Regions from separate parts of the Homo sapiens genome. Here regions 1, 2 and 4 are each reported to be linked to region 3. Evidence: microRNA targets listed by miRTarBase, many of them from high-throughput screens and not tested one by one. Region 3 holds a microRNA gene; each other region holds the end of a gene's coding sequence.
Evidence for each region. The annotated mature microRNA hsa-miR-3152-3p reads UGUGUUAGAAUAGGGGCAAUAA and lies in region 3 at 4,760-4,781, opposite strand. An mRNA with a match to its seed (bases 2 to 7 or 8) in the 3' UTR can be bound and repressed. Matches are read on the target gene's strand: a 7mer-m8 pairs with bases 2 to 8, a 7mer-A1 pairs with bases 2 to 7 and ends in A, and an 8mer does both.

Region 1 (7,124 bases), not on the chromosome of region 3:
ATAGAAATTCCAGCAATGCCACTTTCAAACTACATATATTCTCAGTGCTCATTTTTCTAATGAGTTATCATTGACTATTGTTTCTTGATTACTCATAACTGTTATCCAACATGCATACCATACTCATTTAGCCCATCTGCATTTTCCTGTAAGATTAGAAGTATTTATATTAGATGTAAGAAAGAAAATGGGAAACATATGCAAATGTTTCATTAGTCTTCAGTTTTAAAGAGCTGGTCAATAAATATAGCAGAAAATATTAGCCCAAATATGTGAGAAATTGTCAGCTTAACATTCTAATCTCTATTTATGTATTTTTTTCTTTTTTTCAACAGAAAACATGGATGGCACAAATAACAACTGCAATTTCTTGCTTTACCAAGAGTCAGGAAACCAAGAAAATATCTTTATTCACATTGCCCGCAGAATCCTCTGAAATTTAGGGACCTAAAACAAGTGGCATGTCTTTTTAGAAGATTATGGTTTAAGGTATAATTTCATTCAAAGTTTTGTAACACTTAGCTAGTGATAAGCTAGAAGGAAATTTGCATTTTAAAGAAGTTTCAGAATTTGAAATTTTGAGCTAGGAAAATCCTCAGTATAGAGGAATAATGACTGCAACAAATTTGAACTCTGAGGAATTTCTTGACAAATATATACTGACATCCAGATTACCTTCTAATGCTTCCGTCAGGTTTGTAAGAGGTGTGAGTGAAGAAAGGTGCTAATTTGTAAAGGGTGAATGATCAGATAAATGGAGTATCAGAAGGAAAACAATGTCCACTGCTTATGTCCAATATGAACTCCAGCATCTTACTCTGTATCCATAAAATAATGAAACCAATTTTCCTTCATGGCCTGTCAATCAGTCTTAACCGCTTTATAGTCCTACCTCAAACATAATGATAAATCTTTAGATACAAAGCTTGATTGTTCTTTTAATATACAAAGCAATAAATAGGGACTACATTTAAGTAGCAGTTTTAAAATTCCTATTCTCAAACTCATCTCAGGTATATAGTACTCTAACGTGGAAGTAGAAAATCCCAAAGACTAAATTCCATTACTTTAAGATAGGAAGAAAAAAAAAATCTGGCTTTCACCAGTTAACACTTTTGCATGGCTTTTCTTGGCCTGTTGTGAAGTGTACAGATTTTCATAGACATAGTAAGGTATCTGTCTCTTAACTTTATTTTTTGAAGAATGATGGTGTTTGCCATAAAAATACTTTCTGGTTTTGATTGGTGTGTGTGTGTGTGTGTGTGTGTGTTAGCACAGTACAGTCACTTAATTTTATTTGGCAGGACTTCAAATTTCTTCAGAATTTTTATCATGAAAGGCAGTTTGAATAATTATTATCATGGCAGGATATATACTATTAACTACATTCAAGGAACTAGTTCTTAGGGTCAGATTATTGCATCAAAGGGAAGTCCACAAACTTCCATTTCAGAATCGTACCTTTTGCAATTTGCAAAGTGAAAGTAGTAAATTTATCAAATTTGGCTGCAAGACAACTGAAGCCTTAGCTGATTTTGTTAAGCTGAAGAATGGGGTAGAGAGGATAATGTTTGGGCAAGTCATGTGCCCAGTAATTCCTTGAGGAAGGTGAAATTTCACTATGCAAACAAAGCAGTAAAGACAAGTGCAGCAGAAAGGCTTTTGTACAAGGCAAGCACTATTAGAATGGAGACTAATAACCTCTTTATAATAATGTCAGAAATTTAATAGAAGAAAAAAAGGAAAATCTGGAGGACAGTAACTATTGTTAATAGCTAAGAATAAATGAGGTGGAGGGGAGAAAAAGGGGAGAATAGACTTCAAGCTTCAAGTGAATTCCTAGAGATGGCATCTGGATGGGACTGAAAGCAGTTATGTCCAGGAGAATACAATATAGATTATGCAAGAGAAGATTTTATAAAGAAATTTCTGGTTAAAAAAAATTTTTACATTAACAATCATCTTGCAAATGTTTAGATATAAACTAACCTCGGAGGTGAGCAGTGGACTAGGATGAGGTGGCCTCTCAAATTCCTTTAGTCCCATGAATCCAGCAACCACAGACTTACATGTATAAAGGTAGTTTTCTCCCTCTGAATCTCATTAAAGGGAGAGACAGACTGACTAAATTAACAAAATATATAAAACAGCTCAAGAATATGCTGTACATAAACTGGAATTCTATAAAGCTCACAAAGTAACATGTCTAATATACAATATATTAGATGTTTGAGGATATGCACATTAAACTCTTTGGAGGGTTTAGAATGAAGCACATTCGAATGAAGGGATCACGGGGGTCAGAACAAAAACCATTCTAGAACCGTGGCTCCCAGGAAGAAAAAATAGCAAAAAACAATGGCACATTGGGCCTTCCAAAAAGTATCTTTGGGGAGGGGAGGGAGAAAAATAAATAAATAAATAAATAAATAATGTTTTAAGTATCTTTAAATGGTCATCTGGGTATTAAATGCAGACACACAATGAAATAAGGGGTTAATTACATATTTTTTATATTTGTTTTTAGTTTTGTTAATTCTCTACAATATTAAATGGAATGTCTAAGGCAAAATGGCATTAATAATTTCTCTTGAGATCAGGAATTTAATTACTATTCGAAATTGAACAACATTAAAACACCACTGTCTATATCCAAGTGCAAAGTCCTAATATTCTGTAAATAAATTAATGCAAAATGGTTAATACAGTGTTCTCTCTTTTGTTAGACAAAACAATTTATAGTCACAGAATACAACTAGTTTAGAAAGAAATGTTTTTAATATAATATTTAAACATATTAAAAAAAAGCAACAATTCAATAAGGATCCTTCCATTGTTCTTTATACAGATTTAAATGCTGTCACGTACTTTATCAGTTACATTTATAATTAATAACCTTCCAATCACTGAGTTTAGAAATTGCAGTATTTACTGAGCTAACCTTTCTCACAAAGTAAGGCACAACTACATGATCACAAGTAGTAAACACAATACAAATAATGAACCCAAAAACTAAATGAGAAAATGTTCATGCATAAGTATCTACAGAACTTATGAATATATGATCCAGTTCAAGGAATTACAGAATGTCATATACACAACTGCATTGTGTTACAATAAATTTATTACTTCTACACAGAAAGAACTTAGTGACTTCTAATTCTATTTTATACAATTTTACATAAATTTAGTAAGTTTATGCACAATATTCACATCTGCAACAATAACAAATTGATCATTAAAATTCAGGCTAAGGGCAATTAAGACACAATAATGTGTGGCACGTTATAATTACAGAATACCATTCATCAAGCTCATGTCTAGGAATACTATAATGGTGGCACATTTAAATCTTATGGATCAAATCATCCATGGTTTTATAGCCAAAGTGCATTTTTTTAAAAAAACTCCTATAGTCAAACAGGTCATGAATATCAAAATATATGATCATAATTTGCTCTCTACTTAAAAGCTAAACATTTTTATGCAAATGTAAGGTTAAAAAAAAGTGGCTTTAAAGTTCTCAAAACTATATAAAATAATCATAAAGACTTTTTTAAGAGAGATGGGAAAATAACAAATTTGGCAGTTACTATTTAACATTACTGTCAGGAAACTATTAAAGTAGATAATTCCACATTAAGAGGTAGTTGAACAAAATGTTATTTATACACTGCATTGAGGTTTTTGTGTTTGTTTCCCTCATTTTTTCTTCAAAGGAACAAATCCTATACCAGCAGCTTTGTCTTCTTTCTATTAAAAAAAAGTCTGTAGGTATAGTTTATTGTACACTAACCCAGCAAGACTTAATTTTAACTCACATTCTGTGCCGGGGTTTGGAATTTACTAACATTATGTCAATGTGCTTTTCATTAAAGCCAAGAGCTGTACATGCCAGCTTTAACTGACTGACAAAATAATAGTACCAGCAAACATGTAAAATGTACAGCCAATAAGGACTTCAAAGATGACTTTTTAATTAAAAGGAAAAAAATTTAAATTTTTATTTCGAAAACACATTAAATTGGGGAGAGTTAGTAGCAAAAAATGTTCGGTTTCATTTATATTATCAGTATAGTAGCCTATGGTAGGTAAATTACTCGGGACTTATGAAATGAAATTAGATAAAAATGAGAAAATCATTCAAACACCTATATATGGTTACTTGTTGTCTTAAAATTTTTTTGTGAGTATTTTGGGGGTAAAGGGGAGACAGACAGAAGGCCTGGAGTGGTGTTCAATTAGGAGACAAAGTAAACAAATATTCAAACCCAGATTTCTCATGGAATTTATTATCTCAAAAAAAAAAAAAAAACAGTGGTGCTGTGAATATCTGTGTTTTTCCAGCACACTTATTAAGTTATTTATATGTAAAAGGATAGAATTAAAACTATTTGGAAGGATTTATAAGTATATAAAAATGCATAAATAGTTCAGTTTATATTATCCAACTATTATTTTTAATAAAGAGCCACTGTATTTCTTCATTATATATGTTCAAGGATATATGTTTATCCAAGTCCAGGGACTTAATCAATGTTCTTAATAGCTAATGACAACAGGGTTTACTTAAATTTTTTTTTAAATAATTAAACAAATATGTAGTGATCTCTTTAGTTTACATACACTGTAGGTATAGCATGAATATAATTTCATTTCAGAATATTTGAAAGCAAATGTATATTAAGAACTATTATAAATGAAATATTAACTACTGTTATAAAATGATTGCACTGAATGAATGTATAACTACACTTCTTCTCTAGAAAGATTAATAAACCAATATTAATAACTTCTCTCTTGAGATGTTTTACAATTTTCCAAATTAATAAGACTATGCTAAATTAAAGTTCGATTCCATTGTTCAGCATACAAATAAGCTAATTTCTTAATTATCCTTAAGATGCTTAGCCATGCTGTTTCAGTTTTTATTGTAACTGGGATTCCTAAATACATTTGTTTTTGGTGATACTCTATTTCTAGGTGTTAGTTACTTAAAGGGAATTTCACAACATTATTTTTGCAAAGTTAAAATTAAAACTGGGAACAGTTGACATGGAACACCAAATTCAGAACCATTTTAACTTTAAGTCAATTTTACAACTTTTAAAAATTCTTCCCAATAGGGTAAGAAATAGAAAGTAAAATATTTAATGTCTTCTTATCATTTTATATTTTGTTTTCACCAATAAGACCACAGCAATATTAGTTACTAGCTTTAAGATGCAAAATTATAAAACAAATACATGAAGCTGATCTATGCTTGAAAATGTTAAACCAAATAAAGGAAAAAATCAGATCTATGTAAAAAGCAAACTCAGGTTCCTGAAGATGCTAGAGAGACAAAATAAGGGTATGATATGAAGGCTGATCTCAAAAGACTTCCCACTTACAAGAAACCGAGAATAAGAACATTATACAATGTTTATTATTCATCCTCCAACTGACAGCGAGGGTAAGAAGCTTTCTAAGATTCTAAATGGACAATGCGTGGGAGTTTAAGAAAGAGACAGAAAAAGACAAAAAGAAAAATTAACCCTATTCTTTGCAATACAACCCCAGATAACTATAAGTAAACAAATTGATTTTACAGAGGTTTTTATAAAATCCACCCAAGAAAATTTAATTAATATTGTTAAAACAAAAACCATTTTTGAATTCATATTACTACATATTTTAAGATAAACTGTATTTAGAACACCCAAGTAGTAAATTCATAACATAACAATGCAACTGAACCATGAACCCACATATAAGAGAAAAAGGCAGAGGAAAGTGTTACAGTTCTGTGCATAACTTCACAAAGAGAATATTTAATATAATTAATGTGCTATTGTGCAACAAAAACAGCAACAAGTGATAATATCATCCATGTACATTTTTGTACATTAAATTTAGGAGAAAGAAGTAAGCTATGGAATTGCATTCTTCATTTGTGAATAATGAAATTATATTAAAAAAATACATTGCTATTTTCTGTCCAAAGTTTATTTACATTTCATTGGCTAATTCTAAACTTGGCATGAAAGCTATTCCAGGGGCTAAATGGGAAAAAAGTAATGAAAGATGATAAGCCCAAGTCTCACAAAAATAGAAGAGTTTTACTTGATATCCATAACATTCCAAAATATACTAATTCCTATTTGGTCTAGTATTGCAACCAGTGTCCAAACCAAATAGTAGTCCAAGACCTCTATTAAGTACATTTATTAAAAATCTAATGTTAGTGTAATATTACTCTGAAGTTGTGATAACCCATTATCCTTGCAAGTCATTGAAACATGCATCACAGACACGAACAGGCTTCTTGGAGGAAGGAGTTAAGGCATTTTTGGCTGAACATTCAGCACAGAAGATATTTCCACACTGTCGGCAGTGATGCTGTAAATGACAAAAATTAAACAATTTCAAGAATAAAAACTATACCAAAAGTATTATGAAACTACATGAATACCACCAACTACATTATGAAGGTACATTAGCTTTCAAGTCATTGGTATATTATTTAATGATATGTTTCAATATGTTAACTTAATCTCTGTTATAATTAAATTGAATGCTTCCTATTTATCAAACACTATGCTAAACATTTTACATAGAATTTATTATGGAACTCTCAAAAGAACCAGAGGAGGCATTTAAAAAGTTTTTATAAAGTATCTCTATCAAATGAAAAACTATTCCTATTTGCCAAATGTTTCAGGCACTAATGTCTCCAAAAGAAATATAAACTTAAGTCATTAACACAATGGTAGTATTTAGAATATATTTTTAAAATACCTCTGCTTTTTCTTCCTTTAAAGAACCCAATGATTACTAAAACATGAGTTTAATATTGGTGCACTGATTCAGAAAATGATTGTCCCAGACAGTAACTAAGTTGGAAGACAAGGACTGAATTTAAAAGTAAAATTCAAACACATATGCTAACCAAAAGCTAGACTGCATGAAGTTATTCTATGTTGTTGTTAAAGTTTACTGATAAACAGAAAATTATTCTGTCAAATGAAGGACTATTTTGATGGTTAAAACATTAATTATCAGTGACAAATGAAATCCAGAAACATAGTTACATGAACAAAATTATTTACCCGTCTCACTGTTACTGAAAAGCCTTTCCCACA
Region 2 (7,124 bases), not on the chromosome of region 3:
CACCACTACTTGCCTAGGGCCTTGACTATGTCCTTCAGCAGCTGGCTTCCAGCCCTCAGCATCCCCTTTTCTGCTGTGTAAAATGAGGGTACTACTGTATACCCTGCCAGCTTCACAGGAGGAGAGATAACATACAAAGATCAGACATTGTAAAAGTGAAAGCTTGTTGAAAATGGCACATTTAAAAGCAGTTTTCTTGCTGGGCGCAGTGGCTCATGCCTGTAATCCCAGCACTTTGGGAGGCGGAGGTGGGCGGATCACCTGAGGTCAGGAGTTCGAGACCAGCCTGGCCAACATGGTAGAACCCCGTCTCTACTAAAAATAGAAAAAAAATAGCTGGGCATGGTGGCGGGTTCCGATAACTCCAGCTACTGAGGAGGCTGAGGCAGGAAAATCGCGTGAACCTGGGAGGGGGAGGTTGCAGTGAGCCAAGATTGCACCGTTGTACTCCAGCCTAGGTGACAAGAGTGAGACTCCCACCTCAAAAAAAAAAAAAAAAAGCAGTTTTCTGTCCAAGTTAAGTCTTTTCCTGTTGTAGTCTAACTGGTCTCAGGATTTCTGAAATCTTAGGTCAGGAAGTGACCCGTTGCTTAAGCCCACCCTTTCTACACTCATACCACAGACACAAGCCTGCCCTCTTCTCTGTGCTTGTAGCCTTCAGGAGAGAAAGCTCTTTGTCTGTGGCCTCCCTCTGAGAGAAGGAATCAGAAAGGGGCCTTAGTAGGAAAATCTAATGAACTCAAATAAGAGCTTCGTACCGTTAGTGGCTGCTGCTGCTTGAAATCCACTTGCATTTATGCTCTTACCATTAGCTTTCCTCTTCACATTCCAGGGTCAAGGCAAAGATAAAGATTTGAATTCTAAGTCAGCCAGTGACCTCTCAGAAGATCTGTTCAAAGTACACGATTTTGATGTGAAGATTGACTTACAAGTTCCCAGCTCAGGTATGTGAGGGTGGGGCGGGTGGTGAGGGCTGAGAACCAGATGGATCCATGGTTTTCTGGGGCAACAAGGAAGCCCACTTTTAGGGAAGAAAGGGGAATGCTGGCTCATCAGCATCCACAGGCCAGGCCAAGACAGGCTGTGGGTATGGTGAGAGGGAACAGGGCCACAGTCAGGAGGCTGCCTGCAGGAGTGTAGCACAGGACTAAGAGGACTTTGTGGGACCTCAGCTGCCAACTTGCTCTTCTTTCCCACAGAGTCAAAGGCTTTAGCCATCACCTCCAAGGCTCCGCCAGCCAAGGATGGGGCTCCAAGGAGATCTCTGAACTTGGAAGACTACAAAAAACGACGAGGGCTTATTTGAGCACACCCAGCCTGCTGCTTCTGACCCTGCATGCCCCATCGCAGCGTCCCACCTTTCCTCCTTTCCTTTGATTTAGCCTCTTTGGGCTGGAGCAGCTGTTGAACTGGGAAGAGACTCTAAACTGCCAGTCATCTGTAATATAAACCATTTGCTGTATAGACCTCCTTTGTCTGCACACCATCTCCCACCAGCCTCCCCTCCCCCAGGGCCCCACCCAGTGTGGGCCTGGGCTCTCTTGGGCTTTATCCATGTCTTTAGATTTGTGTTTGCCTTTTGTTTTTTTAACCGCGCAGTTCATTGGCCACTCTGCACGCATTCAGTATTACCATGGAGCTGGGAATCTTGCTGGAGCCCCTGGGGCAATAGCAGCAGCACCAGGCGGTCTCCTCTACAGACTGCCTTGGCCCACCCATTGAACATTCGGCACGTGACCTTGTGGGGGGAGCGGGGATTGGGCACCTGCGATCCTCTTTCCTCTCTTCATCTTTCTCTTCTGCCCTTCTTTTTGGAAGAAGGGGTTTCAAAACCAGTTTAGTTTCCAAAAAGTGTACATTTGTGGGGGGGGGGGGTCTAATTTGAGAGCGAGAGTGTGTATGTGTGTGTGTGTAAGTGTGTGGATTTTTTTATCATTTTTTTAAAATGCAGTACTCTTTGTATCAGTCTGTCATGGGTCTATAGCTGTTTCAGATTTTTTTCAGCTGTACTTGAGCATCTGAAACTGCAAGAAAGAAACTCATTAAATGTGATTCTTCTTACTAAACAGGCCTGACTGCTGTAGCTGTGTAACTTCCCCATTCCCACCTACTCTTCCCATCCTTTCCCAACTTTGGAGAAAACTCCCCAGTTTAGCCCCCTGACCTGCAGGCTGTGTCCTGGCAGGTGTGGGAGGGAAGCCCATGGCCAGGTACCAGGGAGGGCAGTGAATGTCTTGCTCTTCCCATGGGTACAGCCCACAGCTTCTTGGCTGAACGTAGAACTTCTTTTTCTCACCCAGTATACCAGCCTCTTCCTGGTGATTCTGTTTTGCTGCTTTGGCAAGAACTACATTTTGTTTTTAAGAGAAATTTCTGAATATGAATGTGGAGAGCAAACACAAAAAGATTTAGGTTACGCCGGGTGCAGTAGCTCACGCCTGTAATCCCAGCACTTTGGGAGGCCTAGGCGGGTGGATCACCTGAGGTCAGGAGTTCAAGACCAATCTGACTAACACGGTGAAACCCCATCTCTACTAAAACTACAAAACTTAGCCGGGCATGGTGGTGCGTGCCTGTAATCCCAGCTACTCGGGGGGCTGAGACAGGAGAATCCCTTGAACCTGGGAGGCGGAGGTTGTGGTGAGCCAAGATCGTGCCACTGCACTCCAGTCTGGGTGACAGAGTGAGACTCCGCCTCAAAAAGATTTAGGTTGCAAATGTTTCAAGCATGTGCAGTTTTGTGTGTGTGTATACATATATATGGTCAGCATATATATTGTGCAGCTAGGGCGAAGCCAGCAGAGGTGTGTGTATGTCTTTATGAAATGTTTGAAAAGAGATAAACTGACTGCTTGATAATCACTCTCAGGTGTAAAGCTCCAAGTGTAAATAAAAGTGGCATTTAACAAATCTTTCAGAACAAAGTACAGCTGACTATATATACCAAGAGCTAAGCTAAAGGAACAGCTGAGAGCTCCGATCTCCACGAGAGACTAATCTAAAAGCTCTGCTTTGTACTTCCTCACCCTGCTTTCGTACAAGGAAGGGGGACGATGGGAAATCATGGACTTGTAAGTTGTATTTAAACATAAAAATGAACTTGGTAACTTCTGGGTTTAGTAGAGCCTCAGTGTCGCTTTAACTTAGTTTACTTTTTTTTTATTTTTAAAGCAGCAATGGATGGTTTTAAAGGAGTATTATGATTGTAAAATTGCTAAATATGACTGTAACACAGCTTTGTGGTAGCTGTGACACAGTTCACTTGGGCAAAGGAGTGGTGATGGACTCGTTAAAATCATATATACTTGAATAGTCCATTGACCGAAACTCTTTATAGACTATTGTGTAAATGTGGAATCACAGACTGTTAACATTGCCTGGACTTCAGCAGAGTCCTGGAGCTGCTGGGACCTCTCCTATCATGATGAACTTGGACTTTTTTTTTTGATTTCTGGTTTTAAAAAACATAAAATTATAGAATCCAGATAATTCGCTGGAGTCATTCTGATCCACCATGTAGATCTGTATTTAGTATCATTTGGATTTGGAGAAGTGTTGATTACATTATGGCTGTGTAATAAAATTTTTATTAAAACTGCATCACACTGTAGCCACTTTGCCACCACCTCCCCACATGTAGCCGCTGAAACCCCCACGAGATGCCAATGCACACAGCAGGGAGAAAAGCCAACCAAAGAAGACCGAAGGGTATCTTTCCACCCGAGTAGCCTCTGTAGTGATTGGGACCAAGACTAAGGACTTGTCTCCAATCTCAGCTGAGGCAGTGCCTCTGAACCAAGATCTTGGTCAGGCATTAAGACACTGGCTTTGTCCTACCAACTAGGATTTCTTGGTGGTTCACACTATTTCTTGTGCTGGGGAATTCCCTCATTGGGCCCCTCCTCCCTCCACAGTGTGGTTTCAGTGTTGAAGGGTGCAGCACCCAAGGTTGTTTTTATGCATTTTTTCAGTTCCTTCCAAGAAGCAAAAAGGCCAGTGTCCATCTGCCTAGTTCATAATGTTTATAGGTCTGTTTGTCTGTCTTGCTTCTGGCAGGTGTAGGGAAAGTCTACTGCCTGCCACTCCCTTCAAAAAGAATGTTTTTGCTTTTGTGAAGTCCTGACTTGCCACTCAAACTGTACCAATATTGTAAATAAATGTTATGCCATTTTAACAAAGGGATCAGATTGAGTCTAAGGATTGCATCCTGAGTGGCAACTCCTAAAGCCATGTTTTGAAAGTCCAAGAGAACCTCTCTTGCTCCTTTTCCTTCTTCTCTTAGCCCTGTGCCCACAAAAGTGAAAGTGGCCATCGTCAACTCTTTAGCAGCCTGGTTCCCCGGAAGCCTCTCTGGTAGGGTAGTTGCCTAGACCCAAGGAAACCTCCAGTTGTCCTGGTTTACTTCCTGTCTTGGTAAGAGACCAATAAGTTTTAACAGAGCTAAGTAGACCCCTGATGTACTGCCTAACCCTAGTGAGAATCTGGGCCTTTCAACCTTTTTTTTTTTAGCTGGGGTCTCTGCTGTCTAGGCTGGAGTGCGGTGGTGTAATCACAGCTCACTGCAGCCTCAACCTCCCGGGCTCAAGTGATCCTCCCACCTCACCATTCCAAGTAGCTGGGACTACAGTCATGCACCATCACACCCAGCTAATTTTTAAATTTTCTGTTGAGACGGAATATTGCTATGTTGCCCAGGCTGGTCTTGAACTCCTGGCCTCGAGTGATCCTCCCGCCTCAGCCTCCCAAAATGCTGGGATTGCAGGCATGAGCCACTGTGCTCAGCTCCTTTCAACTTTAAATTGGCCTAGGCACAGTTTCTTTGCTCTTCTTTTTTCTGGCTATCATGAGTTTGAAGGGGGTGCCCAAGGGCCATGAGTGTGGCTATGGAGGAAACACTGATCTTCCTTCATCCACGCACCCCTCATGCTGGGGAGGTCTATAGGCCTCCCCATCCCCAGTGCCTGAGGCTGTGTCTCCAACCTTTCTGAACACATTTTAGCTAGGAAGCAAGAAGATCCTGGATCTTCCACACCCTTTAAGAAGGCAAGGGATGGCAATCACAGTGATAAGAGCCACGTCCAAGACCGCTTCTGGTGGTGGAGAGGTTGCTTACCTGCAAGTGCGTCCAATGAGGTTTTCTCCAACTCCCCAGCACTCCCACTACCTAACTGGTGGGAGCAGTGGGACCTAGAGAGCAGGGGTTCTGGGCAGATGACAACATAGCTTGCTTATCTTCCAGGATTTGGGTGCTGTGGGGCAGCCACTTGCTACCTATCTCTGAGAATCCAGAAAGAACACCTGGGGTGCAAGTGGAGAGAAGAAGGGTGCTGGGTTGGTCAACTTCATCTCCCTGGCCACGTTTTTCCAGAAGGGAGATCTTCCTTCAGTAACTATAATGTGGCTGTGATCCAGCAGCCTTAGGAAGCCATCAACTCCCAGCTCAAATTTTTTTCACGATTTCCCTGACTTAAGCGGAGACTGCTGAGCTCCCTTGGCAAGGAGGGTGTTAAGGAGCTGAAGGGAATGGCAGTGCTAAGACAGGGCCAAAAGGCATGCCTTCTCTAAGGTTCCACAGGCCAGCCCCAGGGAACATGGAGATACGGCTTTTAGGCACTGGAGCATAGATAGGCATGTCTAGGGCTTCCAGACCATGCTCAGGATACAAGGGAGGGCCAAGAGCCAAAAGGCACCCAGGCTCGGGAAAGGGTTCAGATCCCCGCTCTGCCACTTGCTATTACCTAGGGCTGAGCTACTTAACACCTTTGAGCCACAAGTTTTCCACCTTTCAAAAAACAACCTGTCCCCAGTAGGGGTCCAATAAATGCTGTTGTTAATGAGAGTGAAGCCGCTGGACCCTGGAGGAGAGGAACGGCCCTTGGAGTGGGCTGATGGAGGGCGGAAGCACTGGGCAGTGGGCAGGACCAGAAACTCCACTTGGGCTGGGGTTGGGAGGGGGGGAAGAAACCCTGACTCCAGATGGAGGCTCCCACTGGGAGACCCTGGGCTGGCCTAGGGATGCGTCCAGAGAAAGTGTGCTGCCTCTGGGCCAGGCCCTCGTTGCTGTCATTCCCCACAGGCCAACGCACACCACCTTTACTGACCAGGCTTCTGAAGGCGTTGAAGGCTTGCCACCTTACCACCCTCCAGCTGGCCCCAACTGAGGCCCGACCTACCCACAACCCCCAAGAGTAGTGAATACTCAAAATAGCACCAATAGTACCAAACCAGAAGGTAAGTGTAAAAGAAGCACAACAAAGCTCTGACCCTTCCCATGATGATTACCTTGATACTTCTTCAAAAGATAGATACTTTTGGGCCCTGCACCATGGCTCCTGCCTGTAATCCCAGCACTTTAAAAGGCCGAGGAGGGAGGATCGCTTGGGGCCAGGAGTTCGAGACCAACCTGGTCAACATAGCGAGACTCCATTTCTTTTTTTCTTTTTCTTTCTTTCTTTTTTTTTTTTTTTGAGGTGGAGCCTCGCTCTGTTGCCCAGGCTGGAGTGCAGTGGCGCAATCTCGGCTCACTGCAACTTCCACCTCTCAAGTCCATGCAATTCTACTGCCTCAGCTTCCCAAGTACCTGGGATTACAGGCATGTGCCACCATTCCTGGCCAATTTTCGTATTTTTAGTAGAGGTGAGGTTTTACCATGTTGGCCAGGCTGGTCTTGAACTCCTGACCTTGTGATCCTCCCGCCTCGGCCTCCCAAAGTGCTGGGATTACAGGCGTGAGCCACCACGCCCGGCCTCTATTTTTTTTTTTAATCGAATACTTTTGATTTCTTTTTCTCTTTTAGCCATGGATAGCCCTGCTTCGCTAAGCGCGTGCGATGCAGCACAGCCCTTCACCTGGCAAGCCCGGAAGCCTCAGGTTGACTCCATCAGTTTTGCCGGGAGAGCCCTTCGGCGCTCCCCGCTTGGTGTCTCCACCACCCCCCGCACCGGCCTGGGCGCCACCCTTGTCCGCGCCAACGGTCCCCGCATCCCTGGCCCCGTGCGCCTCCTGCGCCGTTAGCGCCCAGTCCACGCAGCAAGGGAGGAGGCGCGCGGCCGCTGCGTTCCAGGGCGCTCTGCCCTCGTTCCCCACTCCGGGCCCGCAGCCTCAGAGCCAGGGTCCCAGTGGCC
Region 3 (7,124 bases):
ATTAACTAGCCATAGGATCCTGGGAAAATCATACAATGATTTGCTGGGGCTGGACTAGATCATCTCAAAGGCCCTGCTTTCAAACGCTGGGCTGTGAAGTGCTATTAGTGACAATTTCTGTGCTCTGGAAAAAAAAAAAAAAAAGAGAAAAGTAAAGGGCAGTAACTTTCTCATAAGACAAACTATCTCCAGTTCAAAGAATTGTCCTTTATTCTGAAACTGGGTTCTTACTACTTCCTTGTGATGAACGTTTCAATTGTGAAATGATGATGGGGATAGTACATGGTAGAAGGTCTCTTTTTGTTTTTTTTAAAGTCATTACCTAACCAATTAAGAAGTTTGTTACTTGTCACATCCTGGGAAGTTTTTTGAAACGTTACAGTTATAAAATCTTATACAGGGAACCACTAGTTTAATATATTTTTCAACTTAAAATTTTCAGAGTCTTCTACATTTCTACAGCACTTTACAGTTTATTAAACATTTTCACATATATTTTCTCACTTTGGTACACTATGGTCTAGGAGACAATTCATTTTCCACAGATTGAAAAATGGAGCTTAGGGACGTTGCGTATCTTGACCAAGATTACACAGCTCGTTAAAGAGGAGCTAGATTCAAACTCATGTTGTATTTATTTATTTAGAGATGGAGTCTTGCTCTGTCACCCAGGCTGGAGTACAGTGGTGCAATCTCGGCTCACTGCAACCTCTGCCTCCCAGGTTTAAGCCATTGTCCTGCCTCAGCCTCCCAAATAGCTGCGAATACGAGCACCTGCCATCACGCCTGGCTAATTTTTGTATTTTTAGTACAGACAGGGTTTCGCCGTGTTGGCCAGGCAGGTCTCAAACTCCGGACCTCGAGTGATCCGCCCTCCTCAGCCTACCAAAATGCCCAGATTACAGGCATGAGACACCGTGCCTGGCCCCAACTCATGTCTTTTGACTTTAAATTCTGTCTGCTTTCCAATCTGTAAGTGAATCTGGCCATGATAGAATCATAAGAAAAGTGTTTTCAATACATAGAATTAATAAATCTGAATTTCTGGAAGACAGGTCTTAAGAGTTGTGTCTTTTAAGAGCTCTCCAGGTGATTCTGATAGGCAGCCAAATCTGGGGACCATTACCAAATGGTCTGCGCCTCTGTATACCTGGCCTCGCTGGAAAGAATAGGAGTTTTGAACTCAGACAGAGCTGGGAGTCTCTGGGCAAGATATAAAATCGACCTGAGCCTCCAGTTTCCTCATCTGTGAAATAAGGATAATGATGTCTAACATGCAGAACTGTAAATATTTGAAAAAAAAATAAAGTACCTAGATACGGTAGTCACTCAAAAATGGAAGCTATTATCATTACTACTACTACCTCGTATGATGCTCTATTACTACTGAGTAAGAATTAGGTATATATTATAAATAGCAATGATTCTAGAACTTTCCTGAAGAAATTTACAACAAACACATGCCACCCAAATTATTCGTGATCTCAGGACAGTCTCCAGGTCTCAGTTTCCTCTTCTATGAAACGGCAATAACTGTGAGTTGCTAAGCTATCTTCTGGCTCTAAAAAGTCCAGGACTCTGTGATTCTATTTAAGAGTTAAAGAACCAGTCTTGAGAATGTGGCTCTTTGAAGAGTATTAAACAGGTATACTTGAAATAAATTAGTGCATATGAATGACAAATTTCTATAGCTATGCTGTCATTTTCTATCAAGGTGAGACTATGGTCATCCATGGTTTACCACAGTCCTGTCTGCCGTTCAAGCCTCCATGTTTCTCTCCCAAACTACCTCCCTATTCTTACTGCATAGCTAGGTCTTATCTGGCTCTCCAGCCAAACTAAATTTCTTGTTAGTGCTTAAATGCAATCTTTGTTTTTCCATCGCCTTTACTACATGATTGCCTCTAACAAGACAAATAAATGAAGAAAATAATAATAATAACCAGTCATTATTTCTACGTATAAGTTACAATGCTTTTCAAATACGGTATAATTTACAAATTATACCGTATTTGCTCTCAAATCTGTCATACTCATAAGAATATAAGTTAAAGCATGTTTATACTTGTAACCCAAAGTCCAGTACTATCACTCCATATTTATTATATATGAAATTTATTCCTTAGCAACTGAGATAGGATTCTCTTTCAGTTGCTAAGGTACCATGAGGCCTGCTGGCAGGATTAGTTTAGGAAAAAATATGCCACGTTGAACTCCCATGCAAAAGAAATAAATGAAACCTAATTTGCTGAGCTGTCTTGTTTATTTTGGTTCATTCAGCAGGGTAATATAGTAGCAATAACATTGAATGGGATCTCAGGAGATGTGGAATTTAGTCCCATTTCTGGCATGACCAAACATACAGCTTTCAGGAGATCAAGCATATTTTCTGGTCCTCAGTTTTTTCACTTCTAAAATGGAAATCTTCCTTGCTTTTACTCAAACAGTATACATACATAGGGAGTTATTATTCTTTTGTTTGCCATTCCCTACAACACAGTCCCCTTTCTAAATCTATTTGCTTTACAATTCTCTACTATTCCTAAAGATTTTTCAGATTCCCTAATTCCATTTCATTACCACTAAGAGTCCTAGAGGAGGAAGTAAATAGCAAAGATCAGAAATGATTTATTCAGATATATTGCTTTTTAGAATGTTGATTGAATAACTCTAAGGCCCTTTCTAGCTTTAAAATAGTAAAATTCCACATTCAAATTTACACCTGAAATTCATATATCTCTTGTATATAAGGAAACCTTAAGATATGTTTCATCAGTGACAAACTCCTATATGACATCAGTTTCTCTGCCTCATGATTTTAAACTTTAGGAAGGTTGACTATGTTTGTTTCCCTCTTGCATGCATAAAACCTTGCCTGACATCTCACATCTCTTATAGTCATTTACACTACAGTTTTTGCCTTTACATCCAAATATAGATGTAAGTTTTAAAAAAATAAATTTGAAACAACAAATTACTAAAACATATATTTCTCTTACATTCCTAGCCGTGATATTATACATTCTGAAGAGAGAAAATTTCAGCTGACACCATGTTGGAAAAGGCAAATACTCTCAAAATTTTGTGTCTGCTTCATGAAATATAAAAGCATATAGTCAAATACAGCACACAGAAAAACAATAGCAACTGCTTGCTCCAAAAACTAGACTGGTAATCCTAATCCAAAAAGTGGACCTGAAAATAAAGATGGCAAAGACATGACAAACATACAAACCCTTTTTCACCTTACTAATTCCCTACCTAGAGTAGACATTGATGAATGGATGGATACCAGAAATCAAACCTTTTTGTAATCCTGTTTTAAAGATTTAACTGGCTTAAGTCCAACCTAGCTGGCTCTTCCATGACTTTCTCTACAGTGTGTCTGAATTTTCAATACAATGGAAATTATAGTAAAGTAGCAAGTTTTCCTACAGTTTACTTGGGGATTTTAGAATTGGTCTTACCTGATTTATTCTGAAACTGAGTCAATGAAAATCCAGTCTCTAAATACACACACACACACACACACACAAACACAAACACACACTTCAGGAATAGCCAATCCAGGGGATAATTTCAAAGTCTAGTACATAATTGATAAACACTATTCAAAAATTTTTATTCTTTTATATTCAAGTGACACTCAAGGAAAGAAAAATAACTCTAGTCTACTTTTCCTTCGCACAATACAACACTTGGTACTTTTCACTGAAATCATACCTTAATTTTCAAATCTTTCACCATTTACAAACTCTAAAAAGTGTAAAGATGAGTGATTCAGAGAGTGAGACTATGTAAACCATTTACACAAAGACATTGAAACCCTCTGGACAAGTTGAATGAGAACAAATCAGCACTTACTTGGCATAAACCACTGATGCACATATCCAAAGATTCTGTATAGCAACGCGTACCATCTAAGACCTTAGGTGCTAGTTCAACAACCAGGGTTGTTCCTTTGGCTTGGCACTTGAGTGAACATGGGTTGTCAGGGTCATTAGACACAGGAAGCCATTCATAAAACTGGCCATGGTGCTTGACATCATTATGAGCTGAGCATTGCTGAGCTCGGAAATCACCTGCTTCTGGTGGGCAGTCCTGGAGAAAAAAGAGAGAAAGGACATACAAAGGTTAGGAGGATACCCCCAAACATGAAACCAGAGCAGCTATATGGTCTGCTTAGGTCTTAGAAAGCAAAACAAATGTCCTGGTCATGATAGATGGAACTTATAATATCATCTTAGAGGTTATATGATTATTTGGCTTGCAAAATGTAGAAATCTGATAAAGCAATCACCTCAAAATACATTTTCTGATTGAGTTTAAATGGAAAAATAATTGGCTTGAAATAGATATTCTGATTAGGTGGGACATACATTTTTTGAAAGTTGTCTATTGGTTCATGAATTCTTCCACACTGTACTATCATTTTGACTTCCTCATAAGTAGAACCTAGTAAAGTCAGAGGATTAGTTGAAATTATTTGTCTCTTTCAGTTCTGATATTGAGAGCTATGACAATTGTTTATTTGAATAACTAGCAGTAAAAAGTTATAAAAATTTCATTCAAAAAGTTTTTGTGGAGTTGTAATTTTTTGTCTAGGACTTAGGTTGCATAGTATCTAGAATTAAACATGGGGAACAAAAAATATGAAACCATTTATATATGAATTGCTTTGGCTTAAGGCAGCATGGCAGAATGGAAAGAGCATGGACTTCCTCCTTAGATGGGTGGGTGGCTGCAATGCAGTGCAGAGTTATTGCCCCTATTCTAACACAGGGAAGCCTAGTCTTGTGTTAGAACAGAGGCAATAACTCTGCACAGCTCTCAAGGTTGTTGTGAGAAGTTCACGAACTCATGCTGGCCAAATATATGCACAAGGAATATACTGAGTAGATGGTAGCTATTACTATGATTATTTAATGAGGCCACAGAAGGCAAAGGGATGGAGTATGAGGAGATTCTCTCAATTTGAATTGTAAATTATATTGTTAGAGATCAGTGGAAAATAAGAATCTTTTTGATGTAAGTTTCATAAAGGGCAATTTAAAATGTAAAACTATGGCTAACAATGGCCATTATCTAATGAATAATAAATCTCAGTAAAAGCAGGTAAGATTTAATTTTAAAAAGGCAAATATTGCCTATCCCTTGGAAGGGCTTTTTGATAGGTTTATCTTATTCTACAAGCCTTCAGATTAAAATTTACCATGGAAGACTGTCGTCGACTCTCCAGCTGTAGAAAGGCTTTTATTCTAATTTTTTGTTTTAAATAAAGGATTTCCATGTAGCCTTCAGCAGTTCCCTGTTACTACATTATCATTGTGAGAGTTCTCTTATATAAGGTTTCTTTCTCTGAAAAATCTCTTTACCTTTAAATAAGCATTCTAAAACAGCACTGAAAATTTTGACTCTTTTCCAAAACATTAGTGATACTACTAAAGAGCATATAACGCTCTGGTAGTTGAGGGAGCACAAATTCTTTCTAGGCAATGTGGGGTAGAAACAAATATTTATTTAGGATGAACATGAAATTGTTCAAAATACAATATAAAATGTCAAAGACATTTTACTGTTAGTATTATGTGTTCTCAGAGTGAATAAACCATAGTAGCAGAGGAAAAGAATAATGTATATAACATAGGTACAGATACACAGGCACCCAGCAAGGCTTAACATTTTGAATATTGTCTGAAAAGAGTATGAATAAAATTTACCAATTATTAATTTTTTAGATAATAGGATGCAGTTTAAATTTTTTAAGATCCATAAATAAATAAATATGTGTGCTATACAGGCTGTTTACACGTTTATTTTGTAAAATAAAACAAAAACTACCTACAACCAGCAAAACTATATTATGAATTACAACACAGGTAAATTGTGTCAAATCATGACATACAATACAAATTAACTTTATTTTTTTTTTTTTTGACAAGGAGTCTCGCTCTGTCTCCCCGGGTGGAGTGTAGTGGCGTGATCTCGGCTCACTGCAACCTCCGCCTCCTGGGTTCAAGCAGTTCTCCTACCTCAGCCTTCTGAGCAGTTGGGATTACAGGCATGTGCCCCCACACCCAGCTCATTTTTTTATATTTTTAGTAGAGACAGGGTTTTGCCATGTTGGCCAGGCTGGTCTCGAACTCCTGACCTCAGGTGATCCACCTGCCTTGGCCTCTCAAAGTGCTGGGATTATAGGCATGAGCCACCGCAACTGGCCACAAACAACTTTAAATGTTTAACACAAGCTCCTTTCAGACCATATGTTCTAGAGCACAGAGAAACTGATTTAATATTGTCTTAATGAACTCACATTCCAAAGATAAGACTTCCACTTGCCTAATTTACAAATTCTACCAATATCTGCCTAGGCCTCACTTACTAACTTCTGCCCTAAAACAACTCTATAACTAACAACTGCCCCCAAACTCTACACGTAGCCTTCCTTAAATTTCCCCACTTGAGATACGATAGAGTCTCTGTCAAGGTGCTGCTCTCTCCTGCTTAGCATGTTTAATAAACCTACCTTTATATGATCCACAAGTTCCTGGTCATTGAATGGGAGCGTCTAAAGTTGAACTGACAGTTTAGCAATGTTTAAATACAGTATTTTCGTTTGATAGTACCTATCATCCCAGGAGTCACTTGATTACTCAGTACAAGTACAGAAGAAGTAGAGTACATTGTACTGGGGGTACAGTACTTCATTATACTGAAATACAATAAAGCAGAACATTGAGGAAATTGTTTGAAATGGTTCCAAACTCCTCTTAAAATTTCCTTTGCCTCCTTTTTCTATACAAGTGAAACAGTTAGAAGGGTCAGGCTGAATCGCCTCTGCCTTAATGAGCAGAAGATATAATTAAGAGACCTCTTAATATGAACCAGGGAAAATTTTCTGCACGTTTCCAATTCTGATAAAAGTGTCAATTATGTTTTTAAATTGATAATGCAATATCATCTTAGTACAGACATAAAACCTCTACAGAGTCTCCTATGATTCCCCTCTGTTCAATAAATTGTGTTGGTTCTTTCCACCTTTCCTAAGAAAAATAGGACCTAAAGGCAGTCAAAGGTAAACCAATGAAGTTAAAATGTTAAGACCTTTAGGTTCTGTTTTCTGT
Region 4 (7,124 bases), not on the chromosome of region 3:
AAGGATTATTGATGAGGTGGTCAATAAGTTTCTGGATGATTTGGGAAATGCCAAGAGTCATTTAATGTCGCTCTACAGTGCATGTTCATCTGAGGTGCCACATGGGCCAGTTGATCAGAAGTTTCAATCCATAGTAATTGGCTGTGCTCTTGAAGATCAGAAGAAAATTAAGAGAAGATTAGAGACTCTGCTTAGAAATATTGAAAACTCTGACAAGGCCATCAAGCTATTAGAGCATTCTAAAGGAGCTGGTTCCAAAACTCTGCAACAAAATGCTGAAAGCAGATTCAATTAGTCTTCAAACCTAAGAGCATTTACACAATACACAAGGTGTAAAAATGATAAAATACTATTTTAATTGATAACTAGTTCTTTGTTAGGTATAACCACTTAGTTGACACTGATAGTTGTTTCAGATGAGGAAAATATTCCATCAAGTATCTTCAGTTTTGTGAATAACAAAACTAGCAATATTTTAATTATCTATCTAGAGATTTTTTAGATTGAATTCTTGTCTTGTACTAGGATCTAGCATATTTCACTATTCTGTGGATGAATACATAGTTTGTGGGGAAAACAAACGTTCAGCTAGGGGCAAAAAGCATGACTGCTTTTTCCTGTCTGGCATGGAATCACGCAGTCACCTTGGGCATTTAGTTTACTAGAAATTCTTTACCTTAAGCAGCACACACATTTACTACACACACAGTGTTAACAAAGCACTGTGCTTAGAGGGTAAAAAGGAATCACAAAACAAGAATCTTTCCAAAGTTGTCTCATTCAGCAATGTTAAGGCATCTGTATCAAATTATTTTGGATGTAAAGATTCCTGTGTCTCATAATATGAATGTATTTTTTGATATACAAGAAACTGACATAAAATGTGAGAAAACCACCTATAATTTACCACTGTGAACAATTATATATCTATCTGCTTCATCTTTTCTCAAATGCATCAATTCTCTAAAATTCCTATATTGTAACTTGCCTTTTTTTAAAAAAGTTAGATGCTGATATAAAGTCTGCTTAATTGTCAACTTAATGAGCTCTATTTTGTGTAGTTATATCTTTATCCATTCCTCTTTTATGGACATTTAGGTTGTTTCCAACTTGTTGCTATTACTGCAACATATTTTTGTACACAGGACTTTTTCCTTCTTTCATTTTTGTTTTTCTCTGTATAAAGGCCCAGCAGTGAATTATATTGGGTCAAAGGATATAGACGTTTTCATGGCCTCACACATATTAAACTTTTTTTGTATAAAGGTTACAGCAATTTATACTTTTTTCAGTAATTAAAATATAGCTATTTCACTGAAATATTTCCAGCACTGAGCATTAATACCTAGTTTGCATTTTGTTTACTAAAAAGGTTGACCAGTGTGTTGATTCTTCTTTTATCTGATAAAGTGTGAAGCAACTAGAGAACACTTATTTGTTCAAAGTAACTAGTCCTATTGATATACAAAAACCACAACAACTTCCCTGGATACTATTTTGAAATGAACACATCAATTTTTATTTGAATGTAGGTATTCTTCACACTGAAAAACCAAATCAAGATCCAAACTGACTTTATGTATGTATATATCTCTCAATGCAAGCAATATCAAACTTCATTTTCTCTACAAAAATGCCAAGTTAGTCTCTTTATAAAAAGCAGTTACAATCTGAAGACATTCATGTTACTTCCTTTGCCAGCTCCAACTCTGCCTTATTTAAATCTTTGCATTTCATGGGAAACATTAATTCTATCTATGGCAGAGCCACTTGGTTTGTTAGCAGACTGATTTGCTGTCATCAGACTGTGAGATGATTTTTTGTGTGCATCATTTTTTTCTTGACCAGCTTTTTGAAAATTAAGAAATGGATAGTCATGTTTTCTTCAGGTTCTCAAGTATTGTCAGCATCCGTAAATCCCTTCCACTCTGGGAAATACTACTGCTCCCTGCTTCCCATGGCTTCCACATCAGTCCAGGACTTTTTCTACACAAATTATTCTGGCTCTGCCTCCTTGACCTTGGTATTCTTAGCATTATTTTTCCCATTTTTTTGCAATGGAGTTTTTAATGGAGGTCATTGATTTCTGATCACAGACTTGAAGAGCTATGATCCACATTTCCAAGCTGCTTGGGGTCCCTGGTTTACAGTGTCTCCAGCATTCTGTACCTAGAGCCACATCTAAAGGGCAGGGAATCTCCAGTGTGGTTTTTTGTTTTTTTGTTTTTTGTTTTGGAGTCTTGCTCTGTCACCCAGGCTGTCTGACAAGTAGAAGACATATCCACTGTAGCAAGGAACACTATGGAGTATATGAGTTAGGGAAAAGAGACTGTGAAGGGAAGAGAACAAACATTTTGTAGACGTTTGGTGTTGAATATATGCTATGGAGGCAGTTTCTATAGTTTCATTTACTTCATGAGGTTTCATTTTTTCTTTTCTGAGATGGAGTCTTGCTCTGTTGCCCAGGCTGGAGTGCAGTGGTGTGATCTCAGCTCACTGCAACCTCCACCTCCCGGGTTCAAGCGATTCTCCTGCCTCAGCCTCCCTAGTAGTTGGGACTACAGGCGCCCACCACCACGCCCGGCTAAATTTTTGTATTTTTAGTAGACATGGGGTTTCACCATATTGGCCAGGCTGGTCTCAAACTCCTGACCTTGTGATCTGCCTGCCTTGGCCTCCCAAAGTACAGGGATTACAGGCATGAGCCACCACGCTTGGCCAATGGGTTGGTTCTTAACATGTATTTTTATTTATAAGAATGGGAGTATAATTTATTTTCAAATGATGATGAATCTCCTGAGTCACATTTTTACCCTCATTTAAACTATTGTCTTTTATATAGACTATAAGTGGATATAGAGTATGTTTTGCTGTATCTCAATTCTCTACCATTCCTAGCATATAATACATAATTTTAGGGTAGCCCTCCTGCCATTCCTTGTTAGCACTACTTTCAATAAAATGAGAGTATTAAATATTGGCAGAGTATCTGAAATATGAAATAATTTTAGGTTGCTTTGATCTTTAAAGAAGTTGCATTATATATTTTACTATTTAGATCCACACTGTTGATACAATCATACATATCACACAAAATTTTAGCTTTGAAATGCATTTATTTTCTGATTATTGGAATTCATCCTTCATGAAATTTTTAGAGTAGTGTTTTAAATTAAGCTCCAGAGTGTAACTGCAACCAAATAGCAATACATACAAGTGGTTTTCCATTCAAATTTACAAAAGCATTATTTATTAGTAATAAAAATATAGAAGGAATTCAGTTTTCCTTTTATCCCCAATTTTTTGCTTTTAAAAGACCATTTACTAACATCCTACTGTAGATATTTCGAGAGACAGATGAAAATAATAATAATAAAGATTATTATAGCCAAATCATCCAGTTAGCCAGGAGTTTGATGACTGGATATTTCAGAGTCTACTGCGGGTTTTAAATATTTTGTTAGCAAATGAATTCATCTGTATGATGAGAGACTTACATGTTTTATAGCTGAAAACCTAAGGAGTGACAATAGTACATGTGACATTCTTAACAGTTAAAAACTGAGTAAGTCCTGTTCATTAGGTAGGTGCCATGTGGAACAAGCTTTCACCTCATCAATGCATTTTGTTTTCAGAGAAACAGACTAATGATAGATTAATGGGAACATTTTATCAGGTTAGCAGTAACTATTTCAAAGGTTTTGAAAAGTATGCTAATAATTAACAATATCTTATATTAAAAGGGTCCAACACTAAGTTGGGACATTAGGTCCTAAGGCCAACTCCCTATTCTAAGGTCTTCAGAAAAGGTCCAGTTTCCTAAAACTCACAGGTCCAAGGAGTACATGTTATTTATTGAGAGTTCCTTCTGAGCACTGCACTGCCAACTTCTAAAGCAACCACCTAGAACTTCACTCCATAATGAGGAAAAAGTTTTCATCCTCTTTTTGGTAGTTTTAGCTTTATTTTGAAAAAGTAACGTGTGCTATCAACTTTGGGCAGATACAAAGGAAATCATTTAACCTGGTTTTATTTAACTATATTGCCTTATATGGGTCATTCTATATACTATTTAATTCATAGACAGAGACTGGAAAAGGAAAAGGAAACCTGAGGAACTCTGAAATATGGCAGTTATTCCACAGCGATATGTCTACGCAAAAGATTAGCCGTAATGTTAAAAAAGTAGATTAGAGCACAAATGCACAATCACCTGGAATCTTGGAAAAGTTTTTCTTTAGTATACATGGTTTCATAAAATTAAAGTTATTTAAGAGAATGAAGGGTCTTGGAAAAAAAATGTCAATTTTTGAAGGCTTTAAGAATTGATTAAATTGAGAAATTAACATGGCTGACTTTCAGGCCTACTTAATTATTTTAAATGACTAATTATGGTTAGGTTTAAAATACAGCAGTGCAAATTAAAAATTCAAATATGTAACAAAGCTCTCTCTTCAGTTCTTATTTAAAAAAAGATAAAACTAGGTACATAAAATTATATTACAGGAACTGTAACTATCCTCAGAGATTACTTTTTTTAAATATAGAAAGGTAACACGCTTTTAGCCACACAGCTAACATGAAAAAGAACTAACTAGAACACATATAACAAGTGATTTTTCTGCCAATAAAGACAAAAGACTATTTGTTGCAAAGTATTATTTTGTGCAAAAATTAAAGAGGAGAGTAGAGAGTAGAAAATTGAAGAGAGTAGAAAAGATGACTCATTAGCAGTATCCACTGTTTGTTAGGAACTGAATTTTGCCCCCAAAACCTATGTCACTATCAGCAATGGGAGTGGTGACAACTGGTGACATAAAAATAAGCATTTTACATTACTGTGAAATAGATAATGCCAGATCATTTCAATATAATGAAAAGCAAAAATTTACTTTTTAATTTTTTTTATTTTTCCATCTAAAATGGCAAAGAGAACATTTACTTTTGATCACTTAACAAGGACACACCCAGGAAATTTGATTTTCTCAACATTAGGAGGATGAGGGGAGTACAGATGGAAAAACAAAAGATAAAACACAAAAGGAGTACATAAAACATTGTTTAGTACAAATAATGAAAAATGACTTCATGACATTTTCCAATAAAAGTTATTTTTACAGATTTTGCAATGCTGTAAAAACCAGGTATATTGAAAGGGGTTATTTATAGGTTAAAAATAAAGCCATTGATGAGTGATAATCAGTTTTAACAGAGTTCACGCAATTATCTTAGCTGGAAAGCTACTGTCCCAAGTGACAAAATTTATGTCCTGACACATGATTACATATTAAATCATTTTGTAAAAGAAATGATTCTGTATGTGGGACTGACAGCTCTTGAGAAAGTGCTATACAAACAAGGTTATAGAAATGTTGAAGTGATTGATAATCTTAAAATACCATACAAAAATGTGTAAACAAAAGGATGGTTTAGAGTTGCAGGGCATTATAAAATATGTAATTTTAGTTAAGACTAATAATAATATTTTTGTGCACTTTAAAAATGGTTAGTGTAATCTTGTAAGTTCAAAGCTGGGTTCTCAGTGAGCAGCAAAAGGTGTTAGATGCATCACCACACTTCACAGGACCTCCTGAATGACTGCAGATGTGCTGTGTACCTTCTTAAGGGGCTTTGGCTGACCTTATGAGAGCAGGAGCTCACCATGCTTATGGGTGACTATATCAAAAAGATCTGCAATAAGGCTCACCTGGGAGATGCTCTAGCATTCAAATTCCTATACTCCTCTTTTATCTACGCTGTCAGATGAAAACTGCTTACTGCTTTTAAAAGATATAATAAACAATATAAATTCTGATAGTAAAGCACTATAAAAATTAGGTATGATATTTTTGGCACAAAGCACTTTTTAAACCCAAGCTCATTTTGCAAAATATATGTCTAGAGTTTATCATTTGAAAATAAAAACATATACACAATATGTAAATGGTTTTATAAGTGAATTAATTAGAATGTACATTTTCTTAAATACTGCACATACCTTCAGCTTACTCCAGTACCAGACATCTGCATGCACACCCCACATTCTACATTACACAGATATTGCACAAGTTTCAATGCCAAAATACTAATGCAGTCTGGCAAGATTTAGGGTTTACCTTTCAGTATTATTTTGTGAAAGTATTCAGATTCAATACTATTTCGCAGAAAAGCTACATGACCAATTTCAGGAAAAGAATGCTTGCTATCTTTCCTTGATCCACAGTATTAAAATCTGTAACAATATATTTAGGCATTTCATTTATGTTTTCCAGCATTTAAAATTCCGCAAAACCTGTGTTTGAAATTTCTTATAGCATTCCTTTACAAACAGGAGAAGCTTCGTCTAATGTAAAAAAAATTAAAGGAGTCCACAGGGCAATAATTTTTCCACCAGAGGTCTCACTCTACATTCTGAAAAGCACTGCAGAGCAATATTTAAGTCTGTCACTTTCAGAGAGCCATTAGGAGCAAAGTCTGCTGAAAACCTTGTAACATACCATGACAGCTGGATGGGTTTCTTAATGCATTGCACAATGTAATTCAATTGTTTTCCTCCCAAAACATCTTAGGGTATGCTACAGCTGCTAAAAGGATTTCTGTTTTTCTTGGTCCTTTGTTTGTTGGGTCTAAGATTGATGACATCTCCACCATTGAGGGTACCTGAATTCTGACCGGAGTGACTTCCACCAGATGTATTAAAGACACCTGTATAAATTGAGGGAAAAGAGTGATTGCCACTGACACGCCTGAGTTACCTGTTGCATCCAGCTTGTTAGTAAAATCAGTAATATTTTCAAGTATTTACAGTTTCTCTAAAATTGTAGTAAAATCCAACAAAATTTAGCATCTTAACCATTTTTAGGCATACGGTTCAGTGGTATTAAATACATTTGTAATGTTGTGGAACAATCACCCCCGTCCATCTCCATAACTCTTTTCATCTTTAAAACTGAAACTCATACCCATTAAACAGTAACTAACTCCCCATTCCCCCTCCCTGCAGACCTTAGCAACCACCATTCTATCTTCTGTCTCTTATGATTTTAACTACTCTACCTTATATAAATGGAATAATAGTGTCTTTTTGGGACTGACTTATTTCATTTAGCATAATGTCTTCAAGG

Region 1: the mRNA of EEA1 is a reported target of hsa-miR-3152-3p. Seed matches in the 3' UTR shown: 7mer-m8 at 4,984-4,990, 7mer-A1 at 3,108-3,114 and 8mer at 1,266-1,273.
Region 2: the mRNA of RTF1 is a reported target of hsa-miR-3152-3p. Seed matches in the 3' UTR shown: 7mer-m8 at 2,510-2,516 and 7mer-A1 at 3,228-3,234.
Region 4: miRTarBase lists RAB23 as a target of hsa-miR-3152-3p. Seed matches in the 3' UTR shown: 7mer-m8 at 5,557-5,563.

The regions. Positions count from the first base shown.
Region 1 is chr12:92,769,753-92,776,876 of GRCh38, forward strand. It overlaps EEA1 (early endosome antigen 1), which reads right to left. Exons shown (of 29, transcript NM_003566.4): 28 at 7,092-7,124; 29 at 885-6,381. The coding sequence ends at 6,259. PLEKHG7 (pleckstrin homology and RhoGEF domain containing G7) reads left to right here. Exons shown (of 17, transcript NM_001377329.1): 17 at 336-2,703. The coding sequence ends at 443. Among named protein-coding and RNA genes, the nearest start is that of PLEKHG7, 70 kb to the left of the region's middle.
Region 2 is chr15:41,479,382-41,486,505 of GRCh38, forward strand. It overlaps RTF1 (RTF1 homolog, Paf1/RNA polymerase II complex component), which reads left to right. Exons shown (of 18, transcript NM_015138.5): 17 at 833-944; 18 at 1,200-4,182. The coding sequence ends at 1,306. LOC105370790 (a long non-coding RNA gene) reads right to left here and starts at 6,988. Exons shown (of 3, transcript XR_932169.3): 1 at 6,849-6,988; 2 at 5,114-5,298; 3 at 46-110. RefSeq lists an enhancer at 4,293-4,342.
Region 3 is chr9:18,571,007-18,578,130 of GRCh38, reverse strand. MIR3152 (microRNA 3152) reads right to left here and starts at 4,825; the gene lies at 4,752-4,825. It overlaps ADAMTSL1 (ADAMTS like 1), which reads right to left. Exons shown (of 29, transcript NM_001040272.6): 4 at 3,865-4,101.
Region 4 is chr6:57,183,896-57,191,019 of GRCh38, forward strand. RAB23 (RAB23, member RAS oncogene family) reads right to left here. Exons shown (of 7, transcript NM_016277.5): 7 at 3,097-6,705. The coding sequence ends at 6,566. BAG2 (BAG cochaperone 2) reads left to right here. Exons shown (of 3, transcript NM_004282.4): 3 at 1-5,938. The coding sequence ends at 295. Among named protein-coding and RNA genes, the nearest start is that of BAG2, 15 kb to the left of the region's middle.